Linked DNA regions of Homo sapiens. The protein of the gene in region 4 interacts with the protein of the main gene of each other region in a pairwise test. Each region holds a gene or a part of one and is shown on either strand. Other genes may lie near its edges.

What was found.
Region 1: the proteins of PITX1 (region 4) and TFAP2D interact in binary tests that used the Homo sapiens proteins (3 or more experiments, as listed by UniProt).
Region 2: the proteins of PITX1 (region 4) and MYOZ3 interact in binary tests that used the Homo sapiens proteins (3 or more experiments, as listed by UniProt).
Region 3: the proteins of PITX1 (region 4) and PLEKHB2 interact in binary tests that used the Homo sapiens proteins (3 or more experiments, as listed by UniProt).

What each region holds. Positions count from the first base shown.
Region 1 is NC_000006.12:50,708,676-50,716,564, reverse strand, and holds the start of TFAP2D (transcription factor AP-2-delta), read right to left. Parts: upstream 3,040-7,889; 5' UTR 2,510-3,039; coding exon 2,471-2,509; intron 1,450-2,470; coding exon 952-1,449; intron 1-951.
Region 2 is NC_000005.10:150,664,251-150,671,250, reverse strand, and holds part of MYOZ3 (myozenin-3), read right to left. Parts: intron 5,738-7,000; exon of another isoform or gene 5,220-5,737; intron 3,135-5,219; exon of another isoform or gene 2,979-3,134; intron 2,866-2,978; exon of another isoform or gene 2,653-2,865; intron 1,929-2,652; exon of another isoform or gene 1,821-1,928; intron 1,102-1,820; exon of another isoform or gene 1,042-1,101; intron 768-1,041; coding exon 613-767; exon of another isoform or gene 444-612; intron 1-443. UniProt on the Homo sapiens protein: Myozenins may serve as intracellular binding proteins involved in linking Z line proteins such as alpha-actinin, gamma-filamin, TCAP/telethonin, LDB3/ZASP and localizing calcineurin signaling to the sarcomere.
Region 3 is NC_000002.12:131,129,336-131,136,378, reverse strand, and holds part of PLEKHB2 (pleckstrin homology domain-containing family B member 2), read right to left. Parts: intron 5,659-7,043; coding exon 5,619-5,658; intron 3,478-5,618; coding exon 3,388-3,477; coding exon of another isoform or gene 3,364-3,387; intron 1-3,363. UniProt on the Homo sapiens protein: Involved in retrograde transport of recycling endosomes.
Region 4 is NC_000005.10:135,027,220-135,031,257, forward strand, and holds the end of PITX1 (pituitary homeobox 1), read right to left. Parts: intron 2,103-4,038; coding exon 1,560-2,102; 3' UTR 515-1,559; downstream 1-514. UniProt on the Homo sapiens protein: Sequence-specific transcription factor that binds gene promoters and activates their transcription. May play a role in the development of anterior structures, and in particular, the brain and facies and in specifying the identity or structure of hindlimb.

The DNA.
Region 1 (7,889 bases), on a different chromosome or scaffold from region 4:
AAATAAAGTAGAAGAGAGATCATCTGATTGAGTGATGGCCTCCACAGTGTCTGAATACCTGCCTTCTTTCCTTCCTTCTTCTTTTTCTCCCTTCCTTCCTTCCTTTTCTCCTTCCTTCCTTCCTTCTTTATTTTTTCCCTCTTTCATTACCGTTACTGCCTCATTTTTATCTTTTTAAGGAGGTGCATTTTACGTAAAATGTAATGGCTGGAAGAGCAAAAATAAACTTGTAAATTACCTAACTGGGCTGCGGTTTTGAGTGCACGTCAGGCGGAGAGAATTAAACTCAACCCTACACCCTGGCAAAGTGCACTGTGCGGATTATTTCCTTGGGGTAGAACTTTGAGACTTTCATTTGCGATTCTTTACTTTCCACAGATATCTAGTGTATTTGGTGAAACTTTTGTTCAAGCTTAGGGTCCCAACAATTTCCTTAGAACAAGCCTGTTTGTAGTAAGATCTCCACAAGCTCAGTCTGAGACAAACACCTGGGACGCCTCGGAAGACCCTGTAAAGTGCGGAGATTGAGGGTACGATTGGTCATCAATTTATTGGATCTTACTCTGAGTCCGGTTGGCCCAACCCCAGACTCCTCGATCTCCTCCACCTCATCCCCTCAGGGTCACAAATGTTGATTCACAAAAGACTTCTGTGAGGACAAACCAAAGATGGAGGGCCGCAGCCGCCCGGACTCCCGCACTTCCAGGTGAAATGCTTGGATCCAATGAGAGGAAGAGAACGGGCACACTCCTCCTCTAATTGTTTTGATAACTTTCCATAAGTGGTGTGTGTGTGTGTGTGTGTGTGTGTGTGTGAGAGAGAGAGAGAGAGAGAGAGAGAGAGGAGAAGAGAGAGAGAAAGAGAGACGCTTTACAGTCGGAGCATTAATGGGGCGGCAGGGGGAGGGCGAAGAGGGGAGGGAGCAGACAAATTCGCTGCATGCTTATTTACCTGCAAGTCGTCTGCTCCCGCGGCGGCCAGCCCCAGGCTGGGCCCTGGCAGGAGTCTTTGATCTGGGTGCATTCCATACTGAGAGCCATGGCTCATGAGGGACAGGTCATGGCGGCGGTAGGCATCGAGGCAGCCCAGCTCCCGCCTCTGCTCGTCCAGGCAGGACGACTTGAGCGCCCGCGCATTGTGCAGGTTAATAAAGTCGGTGGGCTCCCCGTGGTGGATCTGCTGGTAGTACTGTTGCGAGTGGTGGAGAGAGTTCAGAGAGTAGGCGTCGGGGGTGACGGCCGGGTGGCTGTGCTGAAACTCGTAATGGAAGGACTGGTGGTGGAGCGGGGTGTACTGGTGGTTAGTGGAGAAGTAGGGGGACGCAAACTCGGTGCCGGTGGTGGAGTAAGTTAAAGGAGAGGAGGAGGAATAGGCGACAGTGGAATTGGCTACTGACTCCAGACAGCCAAGCTGCATCAAACGGTAGCTGTTTGATCCGTCGTGACGTATCTGGAAGGAAGAGGGGGAAAAGGGAGAGCAGAAAAACTTGAGGTTTGTCATTTTGCAACCAAGGCGCCGCTCTCCCGGAGCCAGGAGCTTTCTCTGGCACTCCAAGGAAAGCGAGCGCGTAGGACTCGGGCCGAGCCGAAGCCGGGTCTCAGCGTCTTCACCAGAGAGCCTTTGCAAACAGGCGAACTGGGGGTGGGCGGCCTCGTCCTCACAGTCGAGAGAGCGGAAAAAAAATCCCCCACCCTATATAGGTGCGGGTGACACCACACACGCACACACACGCACAGACACACACACACAGACACACACACAGCCCCTGCCCAACTTGTGCAGGGAGCTTGGCGTTGGGATCCAGGTTTGCAACTGACTCCGGGGCCGCGGGTAGCAGAGGAACGAGTCCACCCGAAAAGAGCGCTGGCCCGGGGCGCCTTGCCACTCTAACTAGACCCCAGCATCGAAATTCTGCGCCTGTCTATGCCGAGATGTTCGGCCCGGGCTGCTCAAAATCATTGTCCATATATTTTAAAAAATCCAGTCTGTGCAAATCGTTCAACTTGCTCCCTTCCTTAGTCATTCGAGGGAGGGAATCCGACTCCCTCTTTTCTGCTTCCCTTTCCTTGAATAAGCCCATTCCAAAAGGGGTGCGTTTTCCCCATCCCCCTTGTGCATCTACTGCTTCCCCACCAGTCCCTTTTCTTTGCTTTTCTGAGAATCTTTCTTTCCGTCTCTATCTCTTTCTCTTCACTCCCCCCTTTTATTATTAAGATTATGTTTTCCCGCTCATTATGGCAAATGTTTCTTAACGTGGCAGAGAGTTGCCCTCCCTGGCGACAGATGTCATAACGAACTTTCTCCCCTTTCCTTCCTTAACTTCCCCCGAAAGACAGATTATAATTAAACGTAACGGTCCAATATAGATTAGAGACAGGGGAGGCTGCCACCGCCGCCGCCACCGCCGCCACCGCCGCCGCCGCCACACACACGCGCGCTCAAAAAAAAAAAAAAAAAAAAGTAATAATACCTCGGCATCGTGGACTAGTCCCGGAAAGGTAGTTGACATGTTGGGTTTCTCCGAAAGCTTACGATGCAATTTCCCCCTCCAAAAAAAGAATCGGGAAAAAAAAATCCAAACTTCTTGTATTTTCCAATTTTTAAAGGAAAAAAAAAATGTTCTATAGGTAGATATCTAAATTGTAATGGTTTTGCCCGGATCAGATAGCTCCTTGCCTCGTACCCACTTAAAAACCTGTAGGAACAAAATTTTCCCTCTGCACAAAAGCAGCTCCCTGGAACAGATTTTGTACTTGCTGAGTATTTCTTTGGCTGATGTCGTAGGTCCCTTGGTAATATAGAAGTTTTGAAAATTAAGCATCAGCACTGAGAACTGGGAGGACAATAGGCAGAAGAGATTTATCCCAGGAGACAAGGAATAAATATTGTATCTTCGCCTAATAAGGAACTGGAGGTTCTTTCAACATTTTTATCCATTTTTTCCAACCTTTATCATGCTTTTCTATACCGACTGAGGTGGGGACTTATCTCTGTGGAGAGTATTTGCACACATTTTATTGTGAAGCTAGAGCTCTAGCTCCAATATATGTATATTAGAGATAGAAATATATATTAATTAAAGCTTCCTTTTATATGGGGAAGTGTTCATTCCTATTGGTTCCACTCCCTGGATGCTGAAAGCTGCTTTTTCCAACAACCACCCGAATCAATTTTGCCCAGATTGGGGTGTCTGCCTTCGCCCAAGTGGAAACAATGCTGGTCTTTCCATATTTACATTGAATTTGGGTTCTTTCCCCTTTTTTGAAAGGCAAAATCAAGCGGTGGCTTACACTTTTCAGCAGCTTTAAAAATAAATAATGGTGATGGACAGTCCCAAGTTTCCATCATCAGGAAATGGTGTAACTGGCAATGCATTTAGGAAAAATGCAAGGGAATAAAGATGTAAGACAAGATTCTACATTTAGGTAAACTGTTGTCTTTCACTCCCCAAACCAAACCATATCCCCCCTCTTTTGTGTTTTTCTTCTTCCCTTTTGGAAACACTGCTGGTGGTGGTGGGGTGTAGACCGTTCAGCAGTAGCATTAGGTTTTTGAACACTATTACCCCCAAAATAACCCTTAAATGCTTGGAAGTTATATTTTATAAATAGAGGGCAGGAAGGAAGCAGTGCACACATATTTCCATCTCTTCAGTGGATTTCTTGACTTTCAAACAGTTTTTGAGCTTTCCTTCCTTCAAAATTCAGCTTCCTCCACCAAGTTGTTTAGTGCCTGGAGGGGGTGGTGGTAGCTATAAACCTGAAATACTGAGGCTTTGCTCCTCAGTGTCTACATTATAAGAAAGAACTGGCTGGCCCCACAGACTCATCTCATAGATAGAAGGGGTAATTCAGTCTTAATTGCCATTTCATTTGGTTTGCTTTTAAGTGTTTAAGCTGAGAAGGTGTCTTAATAATAAGCCTCAGGCAAACAGGCATGTGGCTTTTTTTTTTTTTAGGTTGGGGTTTGGGAGGGTTTATTAGGATCTGCTCATGCAGGCTAACTGGGGCTGTCACTCAGAGCTCTTTGCTTTATACAAATGGACAAAGGCACACGACAAGAATTGAAATGCATTGTCTGAAATGGAGATACACGATTCTTCAGCCCCACATGGGGTCAGCAGCCAACACTTGTTCCCTATTTCAAGGTGTGCCAGTGCTGCCCCCCTCCCACCCCTCCTTGAAATTCCATATTTTGGCCTAATGAAGTAAGGAGACTGAGAGACCAATGATGACAAAAAGGAAGAATATCCAACTTAATCTTTAAGTAAAAGGGGTAAAATGAGTGCTGTTGGCTCTAGGGGTTGAATCCCAAAAATGTTTGCAGTGGAGTCTTTGTTTACCAGGTCTGAGTGGGGCCTCCATAGCTTACCCACGGAGAAAATAACTAATCATCTCTGGGAGATGGAGACTGCCCCCACGACCTTAACTCAGGCACCCCTGCCCCTGGGAAAGTGCAGACCATTCCCTGGAAGAATATGTAGGACTTGCAGGTTATCTTGGGGAATGCCCAGGTGCGCTTTTCCTGGTGGATGATATTGGCTTCCCAGTTAGTCCCGGTCAAATGGAAGAGGATAGCCCTTCTCAGACATGTTGCAATCTCCTTTCCAACACCCCTACTGTCAGATACACCTTCATTGAAGGTGACGGTACCTTCTCTTCCCAGTTTAGGTCCAGGCAGCAGACACAAAACCCTCTCCCCGGGGAACAACAATGAGGAAGCTCAGGAAGATGTGGCCGCCTGCTCTGCCTGCTGGCCCAGAGTGTTTGTTCCACATGTTTGTCCCTGTCTGGAATAAGAGCCACACATAGCCCCCCTCACCCCTGCCACCGCACTCAGAAGATATAGCTTTATGATACTCTCGGTAATGAGCTCTGGCCTTGAACTGAGTACACCCCATGGAATGACCTCCAGTAGCCTGGACCCTGTGAACATCAGGACATCACCAACTAACTGGCAATCATCGCATTCCACCCCCTAACCCCACTTTCATGGTTCACTTTCCTGAGTGACTTTTAGGTATCCAAACAAAGAGTGTCCAGGGTTTAACTTACATGCTTGTTGAACTCTTGTGGACATGAGGGGAAACTAAAGATCCTGAAGAGTGAGAAAAGACCCTTTCATTTGTACTTAAGGAAAATGAAGCAGGAAGGATAAAATGGCTCTCTTTTAGTTTTGAGATTTCCCTTGCCAGGGCCCTTGACTACCTTAGAAAGCATCCCTCTTAACCCTATGTCTTGGCTTCCCACACCAGCATCTGAACTGCAGGGAAACTTCATTTGGCCAACTGCTCCCTCCCACTTCATTCCAACTTAAAAAAATAAAAAAGCTGTTTTCCCCTGAAAGAAACAAAGTTGAGGAAATCATCCATGCCATATGCACATATTGGTCAGCGCTCCCTTCCATCTGCTCTGGGGTTGCTCAGCGCGCCCCTTTTCTAAAGAAACTCATTGAGGCAGGTGTGTGGTGTGTTTGGTGCCTGTGTGTGTGTGTGTGTGTGTGATGTGATGTGTGTGTGTGTAGCGTTCATTTCTGTCAGACACCCCCCCATCCAATTAATAGTCTTGAGCAATTAATAAGTGTCGTCTGACTTGACCCAAAGACTGGGCTTTTTAGCAAAGTTGATTCCTCTTTCTCTGTTTTACTTCTTTTCCAGAGAGTGATTGGTCACTCATTTTCCAGCGGGTGGCATAATTGAATTAACTGGCCACAGCACTCTGGTGACTATTGCCTGGGGCCCCCTCCAACAGGGAACCCGTGGTGTGCATTCCAGCCTCAGTCAGAGGCCAGGCCGGCGTCAGTCACTCAAAATAGCCGGCAAGAGCATGGTGGACACGCTGCTGGCCTTGCACCCCAAAAGCTGAAAAGGTTGTTCCTCAGCACTTAGTTCTCCTGTTCTTCCTTCTGGTTCCATGCTCCACATGCCAGGAAGGAATGTCTTATGGCAGTCACTTTAGGAATCTGCAAAGAAATCTTTATATATATATATATCATTATTGTCTTGGTTAGAATCCAGAGCTGGAAGAGTTTTGGGGTAGTTGCAAATTCCTTCCTGGGCTTCTAGGCCAGCGTTATACAAATCACTCCAATCTCAACATCCAATCTCAAACATCTTTACAGTTTTCACCCAATCTCAAACATCTTCACTGAAAGAGTTTGCCACTCCACTGTGTGTTTGAGGTTGGTGAACAATTACAAACGAACTCATGCCTATCCCTAGCTTTAATAAACATGTATTTCTTCAGGTTTCTTTCTTTTTTTCTCTTTCTTTTGGTACTTAGGGTTTCCTTTGCTATTGCAAATTGATTTTGTTTTTTTATTGCTTGAATACACTTCTCCCACAAAATTGCCTATATAATACTGAGCAAAGTGGAATAATTATTGGAATTATTTTGGGCATTTTGAAACAAAAATATTTTCTTGGATGTATTTAGACACATGAATCAACCAGAATATCTTCTTTGCTCTCTCCCTTTTGCCCTCCCTCCCCTTTTTTTTCTTTCTCTCTTTCTTCTTCCTTCATTTCTTCTCTTTTTCTTTCCCTGTTTTTTTTCTTTTATTCCCTCCCTCCTTGCTTCCCTCCTTTCCTTCCTTTTTAACAAAAGATAGATAGAGATGGGATTGAATCTCTTATACTTATGCCTTTTAGGCAAACATGTGTGTACATTGTCTAAGAATGAAATTTAGCATGTTCTGCTCCAGTGGGAGGTGCAGCTGTATAACCAGACATGAATTTACACAATAGGAAACAATTTCCATGGTCACAAAGACCCTGTCTTTGAAAGAACAGTGGGGCACTAAGGATCCCATATAGGTGAATGATGTTCATTCCACAAAGCAAAACAAGATATGTAGGTATGAAAATCAGCACCTCTCCTTACTGCTTCCAGCTTCTGCCCTTTCACTCCTTTTTTGGATGAACATGAAGAGCAGAGGTGCCTTCAGAGAATCCATAGTAACCAAAGGACTCCTGCGACTTATCTAGTGGTGTTTTATTCCATCTGCCCTCGGGCCCCCTTCCACCATTTTGAGAATCCCCAACCGTCTCAGTGCCTCCACTTGGTAGGCTTCCGAGAGGCACTCAGCCTGGGGTCTTCTAGAGACAACCACAGAGGGAACCTTCAGGGCCCTTTTACAGCAGGGTCTAAGTTTCACAGTCACTTCGGATTCTAATGGTTCAGAAACGTCTTCTAGTCCAAGGACCTCCTGTGGTGTGATTCTTCCAAGCTCCTAACCTCTCCTAGTCACTCAGTCACTGCTCTTGGGGAATGCCCAAGAGCTCTGGTGAGTGGGTGGGGGCAATACTTCAGGTGGTGGAAAAGAAGAGTATGCTGGGTTCACCATGCCGTAAACCAACCCCTAGTTTATTCATTTATTCTTCACTAGTCGAGATGAAGACAGAAAAGTGCTCCAAACACCAGGGCAATTCTGGGCAGAGACAGCAATCGAAAACTTGATCCAGTTGTATGGATCGGAATATTCGGAGAGAAAAGGCATGGTAACGGGCATTCATGTGCAGACGCGCGAGGTTTCCCCTCCCAGTGATTGCTTCCTTTCCTTCTGGCCTGTGCTGATGCCGACTCTGGGTCTCTTTCGAAAGGTCCCTCCCTTTTCCAGTTATCAAATCTGATAATTCTTAATAAATGATCAAGTAATCAAATTTGACAACTCTTCTACTTCTCGGTATTCTACACCCATCCTACTTTCTATGACAGAAGTGCCACGTTGCGTAAAACGTTACCTAATTGCAAACAAGAAAAGGAGGCTTTTTTTTTTTTTTTTTTTGAGACACGGTCTCTGTTGCCCAGGCTGGAGTATGGTGGCGCGATCTCGGTTCACTGCAACCTCCGCCTCCCGGGTTCAAGCGATTCTCCTGCTTCAGCCTCCCA
Region 2 (7,000 bases), about 16 Mb from region 4:
GTCTTAGGCACATAGCAAAGGCGGGTGTTTTGCCATCTTTATTTTTCTGCCACATCACTCCCTCTCAGTTGCCTCCTGTCTAGCCCAGAAATTAAGTGGAGGGTGGATGGAATAGCCCTGGCTTCCTTAGAAGTATCTGGAACTGCCTGCTGCCTTTCTGAAGCCAAGGGAAAAACCCTTCTTGCCTTTCTTCTCCACCAGCAGATTATTCCATGGCCTTTCCTTTCTCCGGTGGGAAGAAGAAAAAAGGGCATTCTACATTTTCCATCTTAGATCAGGCCCAAGTCTAAACTAGATCCAGCCTGCTGCAAATTTAGCCTAGAGTGCATGCCTGTCTTAGCTTTTTTTTTTTTTTTTTTTTTTTGGTAGGAGCCAGAGTCCCTTCACTCCACGGCTTATCCTCAACCCCCTAATCCACTTTGTTTACTTTGTTCTGTATCCAGGGAGAGATGCCTAAAAAGATAACACTTTTCAAGGATCACACTGAAAGGCAGGAGCCTAATCTGATGGGAACATCACAGTCCTCAGCCTGGCTTACCGTTTGACTTTAGGCTAACCAGTGGCTCTCTGTGGTCCTCATTTTCCCCATGAGCACAATGGTGGCTTACTCACCGCCCGCTGGCTGGCTGCTAACTCGAAAGTGAACTTCTGCACACGGCGCTGCCTCTTCTGGAAGAGGAGGGACCCTCTGTTGTTGCGTAGTGACAGCTCCTCCATCATCAGGTCCTGGGGCACGCTCAGCTTCTTGCCCAGGTCCAGCGTAGGGACTGCCAGGAAAGGCCAGAGCGGGCTCTCACCACCCCATCCCCCATACACTCCAGGCCCCACCTCTCGAAGCATGGCATGCTGTGTGTAAGAATGCCTGTTTCTCACCAAGCTTGCCGACACCGGGTGTCATGATTGTTTGAAATCTTTGCCCACCTGATGGGCAAAAATGACACCTCAGAGTTTAATTTGCATGTGTTTGTTGCTCAGTGAAGTTTAGCACTGTTTCCGAAGTTCTTTGGCCATTTGTGTTTATTGCATGAATTCCCCATGCAGGTCTTTGCCCATAATGGTGGAGGTAGTGAGAAATGGTCAGATTCTCGATATTTTTTAAAGGTAAGCCATGGGTATGGGCAATGAGTGAGAGAGGATGACTGCAAGGTTTCTGGCCTTAGCCACTGGAAGGATAGAGCAGCCATTCACGGAGATGGGGAAGGCAAAGGGAGGAGAAGGTTCTGGGAAAGATCAGGAGTTCAGTTTTAGACCTGTGTTCTTTTAACTTTAAAATAGCCTTTTATTATTATAAAAAAGCATATATGGGCCAGGCGCGGTGGCTCACGCCTGTAATCCCAGCACTTTGGGAAGCCAAAGCAGGCGCATCACCTGAGGTCAAGGGTTCGAGACCAGCCTGACCAACATGGCAAAAACCCATCTCTACTAAAAGTAGAAAAATTAGCTGGGCGTAGGTGGCGCATGCCTGTAATCCCAGCCACTCTGGAGGCTGAGGCAGGAGAATCACTTGAACCCAGGAGGTGGAGGTTGCAGTAAGCCGAGATTGCATTGCTGCACTCCAGCCTGGGTGACAGAGTGATTTTCCATCAAAAAAAAAAAAAAAAAAAAAAAAAAAAAAAAGCATATATGGGCCCTGAGGAAAGTTGGACAATACAGATATCAGACAAAAAAGAGAAAAATACCATTATCTATCACCCAGAGACTGCCACTATTAACACCTTAGTGTATGTCCTTTCATATCTTTTTCAATGACTATATTCCTATGAGGTTTTAACCAAAATAAAATTATAGCATACATGTTTTGTAATTTTTTTTTTTTTGAGATGTCACCCAGGCTGGAGTGCAATGGCACAATCTCGGCTCGCTGCAACCTCCGCCTCCCGGGTTCAAGCAATTCTCCTGCCTTAGGCTCGTGAGTAGCTGGATTACAGGTGCGCACCACCACGCCCAGCTAATTTTTGTATTTTTAGTAGAGATGGGGTTTCAACATGTTGGCCAGGCTGGTCTCAAACTCCTGACCTTGTGATCCGCCCCCCACCCCCCCTCGGGCTCCCAGAGTGCTGGGATTACAGGCGTGAGCCACCGCTCCCGGCCTGTAACTTGTTTTATCAAGATCTTTACAAGTTAAAGATCTCCACATTTCCAAGTGAACAAATTTTTGTTTTACCTAATATCTAGTCCATATCCAAACTCTGCTAATTGTCTCCAAAACTGGGCACACTAAGTTTGAGGAGACTTGTAGGCATCTAAGTAGTGGTGCTGAGGAGGGAGATAGATGTGTGAATCTGGAGAAAACTGACCTGGAGGTGAAATGTTGGGCATCATGAGCTTTTACTGGTATTTACTGGTATTTGTTGTTGTTTTTCAATGAAGAACGTTACATTTATTTCTTTTCTCATAGTTGGAACTAGTCTTTACAGCTATTTAGAGGATTTTCAGGGTGATGGCTGTTCTTAGTAGTTTGAGACCCATCCCTATCCTTTGTGCGTTTCCTACCAGCCAAATTCAAACTTTCACGTTTGGCCAACAAAGGAAGCCTTTTGCAGGACAGAGGGGACAGAATGGTGAGGACCTTGGCAGGTGAGAGCCCTGTGTGGGCAGCACGGCCTGCCTAGTCCATCTCTAAAATCAGATACACATACGTTCATATTCCAGCTCCATAAATGGTATTTTAAGCTGGGAGGCTGGATGAGATCATAAAGAAATGAGAATAGGTAAAGAGGATCAGAGACGGAGCCTGGGGCCTCCAACATTTACAGTGAGGCGGTGAGGAGGAACCAAGCCAGGAGCCTGGGCAGGAGCAGCCCACAACATAGGAAGAAACTAAAGAGGATGGCATCCTGGAAATAAATGATGAAAGCATTTCAGGTATGATAGAGAGACTAACAGAGCCAAGTGCTGCTGATGTGTCAAGGAAGATGAGGGCTGAAAATCCACTATTATATTTAGCAATACAAGGTCATTGGTAATTTTCACTAAAGCAGTTTCTATGGAGTGTTTGGGTGTGAAAGCCTAACTGGAGAGGGTTCAAGAGAAAATGGACAGAAGAACAAGTTTAACCACACCATGAGGAAGCGATAAGCCAAATCCAGGACGCAGGACATTCTACAGGACAACTGGCCTGGTTTTTCAAACAAGTGAGTGACATGGAAAAAAGGGGCAGAGGGGTTGCTTTAGATTAAAGGAGATTTAGGAGCCATAGCAACCAAATAAAAACTGTGGCCCTTGTTTGGATGCTGATGAAAACAAACTAGAAAACTGAAGAAGGTTGAATACAGACCGCTTATTAAATGGTATCAAATCATTACTGCAAATTTTGTTCAGTATGCTAATATCTTTGTGGCATGTAAGGAAATGCCCTTTTATTATTTTGATGCATTCTGAAGAATTTGCGGGGTGAAATGACATGCTTTTTGGTATTAGCTTTGAAATTTAGGAATGAAGGAGGGACCATGTACTCCCTACTTGTATGTGTCTTTGGAAATTGACTAATAAAATGTCAAAAAGAGAGAAAGAGAGGATTGGTAAGAACAATATAGACAACTGCTTGGAAGAGTTGGGCTTTAAAGGATCCTGGCTACAGACAGCTATGGGATCAAGAGGGGTTTGTTTGTTTGTTTGTAAAAATGGAGAAATAACAGCATGTGCGTTAACTGACGGGAACATTTGACAATGCAATAGAGAGAGGGGAGAATTGCTGAAGGAATGTCCTTGAGCAGGAGTGACAGGAGAGCTGGGTTTCCAGAGCCCAGCCAGAGGAATTGGCACCAGGCAGGTATGAGGAGAGTCCATCCACCATATCAGAAAGGAAAACCACAAACACGGGTGCAGATGCAAGCAAGTAGACAGATGTGGCGGAGGATGCTTGCAGATGTTCTCTTCTGGTTACTCTATTTTTCTCAGTGGAATAAGAAGCAAGGTCTTTAGCTGAGAATGAGGTTGTGCAAGGAGGTATTGGAGGTTTGAGAAGAGGGGTTGCCAAAGTCATTAAGAGAGTAGCATGAGATAGTGAATGAACTAGGGAGATGGACATGGCTACCAGGCAGTACTGGGGGTCACTTGGGTGCTGTGATTCATGCCAGTCAATGGAATCCTAAATAGCTGTCTAAAAAGGACACTGATTTTTTTTTATTCTTTCAACGGACACATAAAGGACACTTTTTATGTGCTAAGAACAGAAAGAAATCCACTTATAGGCCGGGCGCAGTGGCTCACACCCATAATCCCAGCACTTTGGGAGGCAGAGGAGGGTGGATCACTTGAGGTCAGGAGTTCAAGACCAACCTGGCCAACATGGCAAAACCCCTTCTCTACTAAGAATACAAAAATTAGCCAGGCATGGTGGCGTGTGCCTGTAATTCAGCTACTTGGGAGGCTGAGGCACAAGAATCACTTGAAGGTGGAGGTGAAGTTTGCAATGAGCTGAGATCATGTCACTGTGCTCCAGTCTGGGCAAAAGAGTGAGATGCTGTCTCAAAAAAAAAAGAAAAAAAGAAATCCAGTATAAATTAATTGGAGGGGAAAGTAAGATTCAGAAGAATAGGTATTCTAAGATCCCATTTATATTATATATTATATAACTATATTTTATATATATGTGTGTGTATATATATATATATATATTTTTTTTTTTTTTTTTTGAGACAGAGTCTTGCTCTGTTGCCCAGGCTAGAGTGCAGTGGTGCAATCTCGGCTCACTGCAACCTCTGCCTCCTGGGTTCTAGTGATTCTCCTGCCTCAGTCTCGCAAGTAACTGGGACTATGGGCATGAGCCACCACGCACGGCTAATTTTTGTATTTTTAGCAGAGATGGGGTTTCACCATGTTGGCCAGGCTGGTCCCAAACTCCTGACCACAAGTGATCTGCCCGCCTCAGCCTCCCAAAGTGTTGGGATTACAGGTGTGAGCCACCGCGCCCGGCCCCCATTTCTATATTAAAAAATAAGTATGTGTTTTTGCATGCATTGAAAAATCTGCAAGGAGACATGCCAAGGAGACATGTCACCACAGCAGTGACCATGGGACATATAAAGGAGGAGGGTTGGAAATTGTTTACACTGTTTTGTTGTAACTGTTTTTAACAAGAAAGTGTACTGCCTACTTAAAAATATAAAAGAATAGTTATACCTAAATACATAATAAAGCACCCTCAGTATCATATTCTGAAATACTATACAGATGAGCTGAGCTCAATATTGTTCTTTTTTTTTTTTTTTTTTTAGACGAGTTTCACTCTTGTTGCCCAGGCTGGAGTGCAATGGCATGATCTCGGCTCACTGCAACCTCTGCCTCCCGGGTTCAAGCGATTCTCCTGCCTCAGCCTCCCGAGTAGCTGGAATTGCAGGCATGCACCATCACGCCTGGCTAATTTTGTATTTATAGTAGAGATGGGGTTTCTCCATGTTGGTCAGGCTGGTCTCGAGCTCCCAACCTCAGGTCATCCGCTTGCCTCAGTCTCCCAAAGTGCTGGGATTACAGGCGTGAGCCACCTCCCCCAGCTGAGCTCAATATTTAAAAAAAAAAAATGGCAGGCACAGTGGCTCACAACTATAATCCCAGCACTTGCAGAGGGCAAAGTGGGTGGATTGCTTGGGCCCAGGAGTTCAAGACCAGCCTGGGCAATATAGCAAGACCCTGTCTCTATTAAAAAATAAAAAAAGATAAAATCTATTTGACTGAGTATTTCTATTTCTAGGAATTTATTCTCGGGGAAAAAGTTGAATAAATATGTCCAAAGATACATGTATAAGAATGTTTATTGCAGTGGGGTTTAAAATTGTGAAAACTGGGACTCAGTCTCGTGGTGGATGCTGCCAGATGCCCCTTATTAGTGGCTAAGAGTTCACACCACCACCTTCTACAGAGAACTGCCAGTGGAATGGATGCTCCACAGCGCCCTTGCCTCAGGTGGGATGAATTCTGTGGAGCAATTCATGCTCGAGAGCTCCCCGCGGGGTCACACTGAACTGGACAGCCGCTGAGCCCACATCCTCGCTCAGCAGTACCCCACCCTAGGCTGCATTCCTCCTTCCCTTCCGAGAGCACGTTCTCAATAAGTCACTTGCACAAGGCTCCTCTGTTCTGCCCCGAAGGATCTCACCCCAGACAACCCTCATCAGGGGATGGTTAAACACACATGACGTGTCCAAACAGCAGAAAGCTGGTAAGCACGGGGAAGGAAGGCGTGAGATAAATCATACTAGGATGGAATGCTGCTAAATGAAAAAAAAAAAAAGCCAAAGAACATAGCATATAGTATTTAGCCCATGTGTATGTATGTTTATATAAAGACATTCATATATGAACAGAACAAGAATTTACATAAATATGTTAACAGTGGTTATCTCCAGATGGTTCCATTATGATGAACTTTCAAAGCCGTTCATGTCTGTTTTGTCTGAATTAAACAAATTTTTTTAATGTATGCCAAGTCAATGGCAAGTGAATTTTTTTTTTAAAAAGTGATGTATTATCATTGTAACCATGTAATAAAGAAACAGCTCTGAAGACAAAGAGACCTGGAGTCAAATTGCAGCTCTACCACCTACCAGATGTGATCACCTGCTCCTCTGAGCCTCAATATTCTCATTTCCAAAATGAGGAGAATATCTAACTTAGGGAGTTGTGGTGGGGATGAAATGACACAAAGCATAAAGGATACTTTTCTCTTAGCAAAGTATCTGCCACATAGTAAGCATGCAATGATGGTAAACATTTTTATAACTTTTACTTTACAGTGGCCGTCTTTAGGTAGTGAGATTATGAGATTTATTTTTTCTTCCTACTTTTGTTTCAAAATTGTCTTTAGTCAGTACCTTAGCAATAATCAACAAGTTATATATTTCAAGTCTTGTATCAATGATGTGTCTCCATATTTGGGGGTCTGTAATGAACTCCCCAAGAGAAAAGAGAATGCATTGCCTGACCCTTCTAGTTAGAGCGTCAGTACCCATAGAATGTGCATATTTCAGCTACAAAATCAGGGTAGGGGAAGAAACTGGAC
Region 3 (7,043 bases), on a different chromosome or scaffold from region 4:
AAATTTTTTTGCAGCCATGGTGGCTCAGGAGGCTGAGGCAAGAGGATTGCCTCAGCCCAGGAATTCCAGGCTGAAGTGAGCTAATGATAGTACCACTGCACTCCATCCTGGGCAAGAGAGTGAGACCTCATCTCTCAGGGGGTCAGGGGAGAGAGGAGAGGAGAGGAGGAGAGGGGACGGGCGGGGGAAAGGAGAGAGGGAGGGAGGGAGGGAGGGAGGAGGCAGGAAGACAGGCAGGCAAGCAACTGACAACCAGTCATGATAAACACTCCTGGAAACTAGAAAAAGGGAATTTCTAAACCTGATAAAGAATAAATATAAAAAACCTCCAGCTAACAGCATACTTAATGAATGCATTAAATACTAAATATATGCATATGTAAAACTAAATACTGAATTCAGTACTAATTAAATACTGAATTAAACAGTACATTCATAATAAATGAATGCATACTTAAAACTGAATACACTGGCCGGGCGCGGTGGCTCACGCCTGTATTCCTAGCACTCTGGTAGGCCAAGGTGGGTGGATCACAAGGTCAGGAGATCGAGACCATCCTGGCTAACATGGTGAAACCCCGTCTCTACTAAAAATAAAAAAAATAAAAAAATTAGCCGGGCATGGTGGCAGGTGCCTGTAGTCACAACTACTAGAGAGGCTGAGGCAGAATGGTGTGAACCCGGGAGGCGGAGCTTGCAGTGAGCCGAGATCTCGCCACTGCACTCCAGAGCCTGGGTGACAGAGCGAGACTCCATCTCAAAAAAAAACACTGAATACATCCCCCCTAAAATCAGGAACAAGGCAAGGATGTCTTCTCTCACTACTGCTATTCTACATAATATTTGAAGGTCTAACCAAGGCAACAAGGCAAGGTAAGGAAACAGAAGGCATAAAGGTTACAAAGAAAACAGATTCCTATTTGTAGATGACATGATTGCCTATGTAGTATATCCCAAAGAATCTACAGAAAAAGGAAATAGAGTAAGTGAGCTTAGAAAGTTTACAGGCGCCGACCAGGCACCATGGCTCATGCCTGTAATCCCAGCACTTTGAAGGCCAAGGCAGGTGGATCACCTGTGGTCAGGAGTTTGAAACTAGCCTGGCCATCATGGTGAAACCCCATCTCTACTAAAAATACAAAAAATTAGTGTGGTGGCACGTGCCTGTAATCCCGGCTACTCAGGAGGCTGAGGCAGGAGAATCGCTTGAACCCAGGAGGCGGAGGGTGCAGTCAGCCAAGATCGCGCCACTGCACTCCAGCCTGGGCAATAAGAGAGACACTCTGTCTCAAAAAAAAAAGAGAAAGTTTACAAGCTGCAAGATCAACCTACAAAAATCAATTCTATTTCTCTATACTGGCAGTAAACAAAGGAAACTAAAACTAAAAATGTAATACCATATGCAATCACTAAAAAAACTGAAACACTTATAAATCTAACAAAACATGTATGGGATTTTTATACTGAAAACCTCAAAATGCTGATGAAAAAAATCAAAGAGGATCTAAATACACATGCAGTCCATGTTTATAACTGGAAGATTCAACATTCAATAAAGATGTCATTACTCTCCAAATAAATATGACACAGGTTTAAGGCAATTCCTGCAAAAGCCTTGCAAGATTTCATTGTAGATATAAACAAATTTATTCTAATGTATATGGAAAGCTAATGGAACCAGAATAGCTAAAACATTTCCAAAAAGGAACAAAGAGGGTGTTGATCAGTCCACCCAGTTCCAAGACTTTTTATAATAGCTGCAATAATTAAGACTGTGTGGGATCAAAGGAAGGTAACAATACAGAACAATGGAGCAGACCACAGACCTCAGAAAGAGATACACTCAACAGAGCCCTGAAAAAGACATCTATCTTATAAAAAATTAATTCAAAATTAATACAGAATAATTATAAAACCTCACTATAAAACTTTCAGAAAATAATGTAGGAGAAAATCTTAGGAAACTTGGGCTAGGTTTGTCATGTTAAGTTTTAACCTGACAGCAAAAGCACAACCGAGAAAAGGAAAAGCCAATAAATCAGCTCATGCCTGTAATCCTAGCTCTTTGGGAAGCTGAGGCAGGAGAACCGCTTGAACCCGGGAGGTGGAGGTTGTGGTGAGCCGAGATCGTGCCACTGCACTCCAGTATAGGCAACAAAAGCGAAACTCCATCTCAAAAGGGCCGGGTGCAGTGGCTGACACCTGTAATCCCAGCACTTTGGGAGGCCGAGGTGGGCGGATCATGAGGTCAGGAGATTGAGACCATCCTGGCTAACACAGTGAAACCCCGTCTCTACTAAAAATACAAAAAATTAGCCGGGCGTGGTGGCGGGCGCCTGTAGTCCCAGCTACTCGGGAGGCTGAGGCAGGAGAATGCCGAGAACCCAGGAGGCGGAGCTTTTAGTGAGCCGAGATCGAGCCACTGCACTCCAGCCTGGGCGATAGAGCAAGACTCCATCCCAAAAAAAAAAAAAAAACCACTCAGCAATAAAAAGGATTATTGACAAAGAGCAACTTGGACAGATCTCAAGGGCAAATACTGAGTGAAAAACGTTAAACTCCCAAGACCACGTGCTATATGATTTCATTTATATGACATTGTTGAAATGATAAAACTATAGAGCTGGAGAACAGTTCAGTGATTGACAGGGTTTAGGGAAGCAGAGGGATGGCATGACTATTAAAGGGTGTCACAGCAGGAAGATTTTGTGAAGAATTCTTTATCTTGATTGAGGTGGTAGCTACACAATCTACACGTATGAGAAAATGACACAGGATTACTCTTAAATACCACACCAATTCCAAATTCCTGGGTTTAATTTGATCGAATATTAACAAATGGGGAAAACACATAAAAAGCACATGAGACTCTCAAAGCTATCTTTGCAACTTCTTGTGAATCTATAATTATTTCAAAATTCAATTTTTTTAAAAGCTGCGTGTTCCACACAACAGACTTACATACGTTCCACTAGCTCAGTCAGCACCCCAACAAGAGGACATCCCAATGTATTTGACATGATTTTTTAAGGTTATTTTCCCTAAAATATAGCATTTTTTTCTGACTATAAGGAGAATTCAAATAATTCATTCCATATAAACTACAGATCATCAAAATCTCATTACCCAAGGCAACTATCATTAACATGATGCATTTTTAGATCTATCTTAAAAACGTGTTACACATTAATACAGCACATTATAATGTGCTGAACTATATAAAATAGTTGCTTCATTTCATGAAAACAAACGTTGATAAGAAATCATCTGTTTTAAGAAGAAAAGGTTTAGAGTACATTTCTAATTTCATTTAAAAAAACAAAACAAAGCAGGACAGCAGCAGAGACCCCAAACTTCCCTCACCTGGAGGCTCAGGGTTCTCCCTACCTCAGGGGCCGGTGCAGCATAGGCCGTGTATGGTGGAGGTGAGGAAACCACGGATGTCTCATCGGTCATGACTGCAGAGCCCACATACGCCTGCGGGAGACAGGAGAGGGTGAGGACAGGACAGCTTCCCAGCAGCTGTGTGCTCGATGCTGTGCATTGTCCCTTTTATTTAGCAAATTAAAAATTTAAAAAAACAAAAAGATACATAGCTCTCTGCAAAACAGGAAAAACTCCCCCAGTCCAGTGGGGGCCCCCACCCCTATTCTGGTATCCTCTAAATGCAAGAGCAAAGTGGTCCTCACTCGGCCCCTAACAGGACTACAGCTCTCACAGCCAGGAAGGCACTCAGAGGCCCCACTGTTACCCAATGCCTTTTAAAAGATGTTACATCAGGCCAGGTGCAATGGCTCACACCTATAATCCCAACACTTTGGGGAGGCTGGGTGAGAGGATCACTAGAGCCCAGGAGTTCCAAGGCCAGCCTAGGCAACAGAGGGAGAGCTCATCTCTACAAAAAACAAGAAATTAACTGGGCATGGTGCTTATGGCCCCAGCTACTCAGAAGGCTAAGTCTCAAGGATCACTCGAGCCCAGGAGCTCGAGACTGCAGTGAGCCAAGATCAAGTCACTGCACTCCAGCCCAGGCAACAAGGCGAGACTGTCTCCAAAAAAATAAAGATGTTACAGCACTCTCAACAGTCCTTTATTCACAAATAAAAACTCTACAATCTAAAATGTATCAAGAGATATGTCCTATACATAAGTCTGTTTTTTACCTTAAAAAACAAAATTCTTCATTAAATTACTCCCCAGTATAATTTAAAGAAAAACATGTTAGCTCTTTAAAAAAAAAGAAAAAGTGGCCAGGCGCAATGGCTCATGCCTTTAATCACAGCATTTTGGGAGGCCAAGGCAGGCAGATCACTAGGTCAGGAGTTGAGACCAGCCTGACCAACATGATGAAACCCCATCTCTACTAAAAATACAAAAATTAGCTGGGCGTGGTGGCACGTGCCTGTAATCCCAGCTATTCAGGATTCTGAGGCAGGAGAACTGCTTGAACCCAGGAGGCAGAGGTTGCAGTGAGCCGAGATCGCTCCACTGCACTCTGGCCTGGGCGACAGAGTGAGACTGTCTCAAAAAAAAAAAATCCACACAAAGAATCATTTGGGGAGCTTGCCCTTAACTGTATGGATTGTTAATGCTAATTTTACCCAAAAAAAAAAAAAAAAAGGGGGATTTTCATGAAGAAAAGGTAACTGCGGCTGTAGAGTAAGCTTAGAATGAAGTTGTTGTGTGCTAACAAAGGAAGAGAACACTGACGCTATTAGGATATTAAGCCTTTTACTTTCTTCTCCCACATGCACACATTCTTCTGTAAGCTTGATCCACCTTCTTCTTTTCTTACAGATTAATAAAGGAGAGAAAAATCCCATCTAAAGAATGAAAACTCTGACCAGAGTAACACACTCCCTTGATCACTGACAGATAAAGACAGCATTACGAGGCTCTACAAATGAGGTTCACTGTCTCAGTGACCTCCTAAGGCCAGAAACAGGACGAGAGACAAGTACAAGTCACAAAAATGTTTGTTTCACAGGCTGAGCTCCCATGCGTGAAAAGGATCCTGCAGTTCTTTCTAAGCCTTTACTGCAAACCACAGCACAATTCAAAGTGTTGCAGAACTTTGAGAAATACAAGCATTTCTAGAAAGCAACACTGGAACAAGCATGCCTGTAAGAGCAGGGTGCCTCCTGCCAAACATTTGACAAACCCAGCTTGCTCACTGTTGGCAAAAGGCGCCCTGCCCAGCACTACCTGCCCATTCGTGGCCAGATGGTCAAGAAACCCGTTTTCCCCATTCTCCAATTGTTACACAAGACCATGTGAAAACATTACTGGTGGCCGGGTGTGGTGGCTCATGCCTGTAATCCCAGCACTTTGGGAGGCGAAAGTGGGAGGATCACTTGAGCCCAGAAGTTGGATACCAGCATGGGTAATATAGTGAGACTTCGTCTCTACAAAAAAATTTTTTCAAATAAGCTGGGCGTGGTAGCATGGGCCTATAGTCCCAGCTACTGGGAAGGGGAGGCTGAGGTGGGAGGACTACTTGAGCCCGAGAGGTAGAGGCTGCAGTGAGGTGAGACAGCACCACTGCACTCAAGCCTGAGTGAGAGTGACACCTTGTCAAAAAAAAAAAAAATTATTGGTGATTGCCATTAGCAACTTACTGTGTTTGTCCTAGAATCTTGGAGTGTAAATTTCCAGGCCCTGGAGAAAAGAAAAAGGGTACTTTATTTAAGGCAATCCAACATTGCAATGATTCTGAAACCTGGGCTGGCATCAGAATTCCTGAAAAGATCTGTTTAAAAAACAAGTCTTCAGGCTTTGCCCCAAACCACTTGAGACATGCACTAGGAATATATATTTTTAAAAATTACATACATAATAGATATGTAATATTTAAAACATAATCTATACTATACTTTTTACTTTACTTTTTAATAAATGTGAAATGTACTGCCACTTGCTTTGTCAGTTCATGGCATACACACAGATCTACTTCCTTTTTACCAGCTATATAATATTCCACGATATGAGTAAAAAATTTAGATTAGCAATTTTTCAACATTAAAAAGAATGCTGGGGACCGGATGTAGTGCCTCATACCTGTAATCCCAGCACTATGGGAGGCCAAGGCAGGGGGATCACTTGAGCCCAGGAGTTCAAGACCAGCCTGGGCAACATAGTGAAATCCTAGCTCTACAAAAAATATAAACATTAGCCGGGCATGGTGGCGCATGCCTGCAGTCCAAGCTACTTGGGAGGCTGAGGTGGGAGAATAGCTTGCGCCTGGGAGGTCGAGGCTGTAGTGAGCCAAGATCACACCACTGCACTCTAGCCTGGATGAGAGAGAGGGGCTCTATCTCAAGAAAAAAAAAAGAAGAAAAGAATGCTATTAACATCCCTATTACCCTTACACTCTTATGTAAACATCTCCACAGGGCAAATTCCAAAGACTGAAAATACCACATCAAAGGATAAAAACATAATTTATTTCAGCAGGTATTGCCAAAATGCCCTGCAAAACGATTCTAACAATCTCTATACCTACCAACTTTACACTATATTGTCAAAAAAAACTAGATATCTGAACCTTAAGTATCACAAGAGCTTTCTTAATTCATAGGCAAAAAGCAGTCTCTCACGCCTGTAATCCCAGCACTTCGGGAGGTCAAGGTAGGTGATCACCTGAGGTCAGGAGTTCGAGACCAGCCTGGCCAACATGGTAAAACCAAGCTTCTACTAAAAACACAAAATTAGCTGGGCGTGGTGGCACATGCCTGTAATTTCAGCTACTCCAGAGGCTGAGGCAGGAGAAGTGCTTGAACCCGGGAGGCAGAGGTTGCAATGAGCGGAGATTATACCATTGCACTCTAGCCTGGGCAACAAGAGCGAAACTCCATCTCAAAAAACAAAATAGTGTTCTCTTGTGCACTCCCTCACTCCTTTACCCCTTACTTTTCTTACTGACCCTATCCCTCTTATCTTCATCAATTCCTTTTATGTTTTATTCTCATTTTACTATCTCCCTGAGTTGAAAGATTCATTCACTTATTTTCAAGTGTTCTGGCTTTCTTTTTTTTTTTTTTTTT
Region 4 (4,038 bases):
CTATACTCTGATAGATCCAGCCCCCTCAGTCCTCCTGGAATAGCCTGGCCCTGGCTCCGAGGAGAGAAGAGGGGCTGTTGCTGGGCCCACAGAAGAAAAGGCAACCCCAGGCATAAAGAGGCTCTCAGCAGCCCCTGCCCGAACGCTCCTGGCAGGCAAGGGCCCCATAGCACCCTGGGGCCTCGAGGGTCACCGCAGACCCGGCCTGGGAAGAAACCCGTAGAGTCCCGCAGCCGCGGAGGGAGGGGGTTCTCGCTAAGGCGTCCCGCGGACAACGCCGAGAGGCACAGCTTAGCGGGTGCGCACCGGACAGGCTCGCAACGCAGGACGGTGCCCTCATGGGAGCCAGGCTGAGCAGGTCAAGAATGGTGGTGGGGAAGCGGGGTAGGCAGACCTCGGCGGGGGCTGCCTCGGCGCTCTGCTCCTACCCAAGGGGCCCGGTTCCCTTTCTACCCACAGTTCCCTTTCTATCCGCCTCCCTCCTCAGCCCAATGAAGCAGTCGGGGCTCAGCAGTGCTTAGCACGCTCGGACTATGGTTTTAATAGACGTACATGGACAAGTCGATATAGACAGATTTATTACAGTCAGTCCAACATACACAGGGACGCTGTAAACAGGGGCGCGGGCCGGAGAGCGGGTGTGCAAAGTGGGCGCAGGGCCCTGGGGCCGCGCCCCTTGCTCTGCCGGCTCGACTCTTGCACGGCGGGCGGTGAGGAGGGGGCTGTTCGCCCAGACAGAGGGCCACCTCCTAGCCCGGGAGCAGAGCAGAGGGCCTGGGCCTGCAGCTAAGCTCAAGGCTGGGGTGTTCTGAGATGGACCTCCCCCACCTCCCGCCAGGCCCGCACTGCCCGCTGTCGCTCCGTGGCCTTAATATAGGGCTCCGGGGCGCGGGGCCAGCGAGGCTCTACCAGGCGCGCCGGGGCCGTGTGCGGCTCCACTGAGTGCCCGATCCTGGGCTGGGGGCACCGTCCCCCCAAACCCAACGCCCGCCCCAACACGGATCCGACTCGAGCTAAGGCGCTCTCGGCCGGGCCTAGCTCGGAGAGGGCAACTTGGTTTGTACGGGGTCGGGAAATCCTAGGCAAGTCCAGGCCCCGCACATCCAGTCCGCAGGCCCGGCCACTCAGTCCGGATCCAGCGCGGCGGGGACGCGGGATACGAGGTCGTCCTCCCCCGGCCGCTGGGCCTCGGCGCTCGCCTACCGCGCCGCGTGCCCTCCGCGGAGTGGGCCTCCGGGGCCCGTGGGAACACACACACCACCCGCGCCATCCCGAGAGAAATTGCAACTCATCCATTTTTTCGCGGCACTTTTCTCCGACGTCTTTTTGCTTTTTTTTTTTTTTTTTTTTTTTTGTCTTTTTGGAGGGCAGAGTGGGGTCCGGAAAAGCAAACACAAAACCAACCCGGAGTGGGAAGTGGGAGGAGGGGGCTGCGCAGGTGTGAGGTCCGCGGCGCGGTGAGCTGGGGCTTGCGAGCCGGGGCCCCGCGTGCGTCCTCCGCGCCCGCGCCCGCGCCCTTCCCCGCTCCGGCCGCCGGCCCGCGTGGTGCGGCGGGGCGGTCAGCTGTTGTACTGGCACGCGTTGAGGCCCGAGGCCGGGCCCTGCAGGCCGCCGTAGCCAAACGACGAGTGCTGTTTGGACTTGAGCCGCAGGCTGGCTAGGCTCGAGTTGCACGTGTCCCGGTAGACGCTGTAGGGCGAGGCGGGAGTGCCGTACGGGCAAGCGCCCGGCGACATGGCCGAGTTGAGCGAGGAGCCGGTGAGGTTGTTGATGTTGTTGAGGCCCGAGTTGGGCATGCCAGGCACGGCGCCTGGGCCCATGCTGGACGGCATGGTCATGGAGGAGATGGAGCTGGGTGCTGAGAACATGGACTGCGACGACAGCGGGCTCATGGAGTTGAAGAAGGTGAAGCTCTTGGTGGAGAGCGGCGCTGGCGCCAGGCTCTTGGCGGCCCAGTTGTTGTAGGAGTAGCCGGCGGCGTACACGTCCTCGTAGGGCTGCACTAGGCCGCTGAACTGCGGCACGTAGCCACCCTTGCACAGGTCCAGCTGCTGGTTACGCTCGCGCTTACGCCACTTGGCTCGCCGGTTCTTGAACCAGACCTGGGGGAGGGGACGGGAGAAGGGTCAGGGCCGCTGCGGGCCGGGAGGGACCCCACCCCCTTCCCCACCGCCTGGAGCCTTCCGTCGGCCCGCTGCCCTCCGAACGTCGTTTCTCTCCTTCGACCGATATTTCCGCTCCTGCATTCCCTCCACAATGGTTCCTTTCCTGTCCCCAGAAAATACTAATTTCTTTTTCCGATCTTTATCCTCTCCCGAAATTATATCCGTTTTCTTCTCCGAATACGGATTCTCGTTTAACAGATATTCGTTTTCTTTCTTCCTCTCTCAACCAGTTCACCTCTGCCTTCTCCCCCAAACAGGTTCGCTCTATCTACTAAATATTTCAGTCTTTTTATTCTCCCTCAAATACAAAAGGTATTTTTCCTCCCTGAGACATAGGACTTTCCGACTCCCCCAATTCTTCGATCTATTTCATCGCTCAAATAGTTTGTTATCATCTTTATCGGCAATATTTGATGTTTTCTTTTTGGCTCCAAATGTTTATTTTCGTTCAGTCCACCCCACTGTCTGAACCTCTTTCTTCTCCCTCAGTCTGTTTTCTTGTTTATCCCCCATTTTTGATCCTTTTGAATCGTCCTCAAATATTAGGCTTTTGAATCCTTTCCAAATATCTGACCTGCACTGTTCCCCTTAAACAGTTGATTCTTTTTCTCAAATACCTGATCTTTTTGCTTCCTATTTAATTTCTTTCCTGCCGCCTAAATATATGCCAAATATGTTTCTCCACAAATATTTAAATTTTTTCTATTCTTACTAGATTCTTCTAATCTTCCTGCCCTTCCTTTTCTCCCCCCAAATTTGGTAAGAACCTCCTAGTCCTCCCCCATCCTTACCTATCTGCCTACCGCATGCCCTCTGCCCACTCGGATTTTCCTCCAGTTCTGAGTGGAGTTTCCTGAGCTAGTTTGCCAGATCCCTGCTTCTCAGCTTTCCCTAGTCCCCAGCACTGACACTACCTGATTCCACCCCCACCCACCCCTACCACCATAAACCTGGGCAGGATTAGTGAGTTCAGGATTACTGAGTGCTGTGTCTTCATTCCAAGTCCCACTGGGCTGGCCAGCCTGCCTAGGGAGGGGTGAGGGCTGGGGTTATGGTAAGGAGTCTGTGGGCCAGCTGGGATTTTGGTCGACTTGGGAGGTGCTCCCAATATCTGATTAAATATTTACGCCCCCAGGGAAGAAATGATTCTCTTGCTACCCTGGCAGGAAAGCCTTGCTTTTACTGGAAACCAAACGGGTGAGAAGAGGGAGAATGCAGGCTGGTCTTGGGTCTGAGATGGCATATCCTAAAAGGGACTGGGAAGGACATTTGGCTCCCGGAGCCACCCCCCACCTCACCTGACGGGAGACCTTCCGGAAAGGGCAGAAGGCAAAGGGTCCTACTGATGGCTGGGGAGGGTGGAGAATATCTTGAGCTTTTAGAGAATCTGCTTATGAGATGGGACCACTGCTCCAGGAAGTTTTGAGAGCCCCAAACCCAGGCACCTTTCAGGCTTCTCCGAGGCAGCCAGACAGGACCTGCCTTTCCCTTTCGTTTTCGGGATAAGGCCAACAGCTCCCGAGGTCCCCAGCGGCAGGGAATCCACTGCCCAGTCTCTGGCCCAGGGTATCCTGCTAACATCTGAGTGGGTCCTGGGCCCCATAGGGCATGGGGGAGTCCCCTGGGGGCACAGGTCTTTGGGCTGGGGTTGCCTTAGTCCGAGGATCAGGTAGGATGAGGGTCAAAGGGGTTGAAGGTCCGAGGCGCCTGGAGGCCTGGCAGACGCTAGTGGGCCAGGGCCTAAGGTGGGGATCTCCGGTGGAGGGAGGGAGCAGGTCTGAATGGTGGGAGAGTGAAGTTCTGCTTGTGGGTCTAAGCTTTGGAGGGCTGCAGCAGAGGCGGCCCGGGAGCCCTCTGCGCGGGTGCCCTTAGG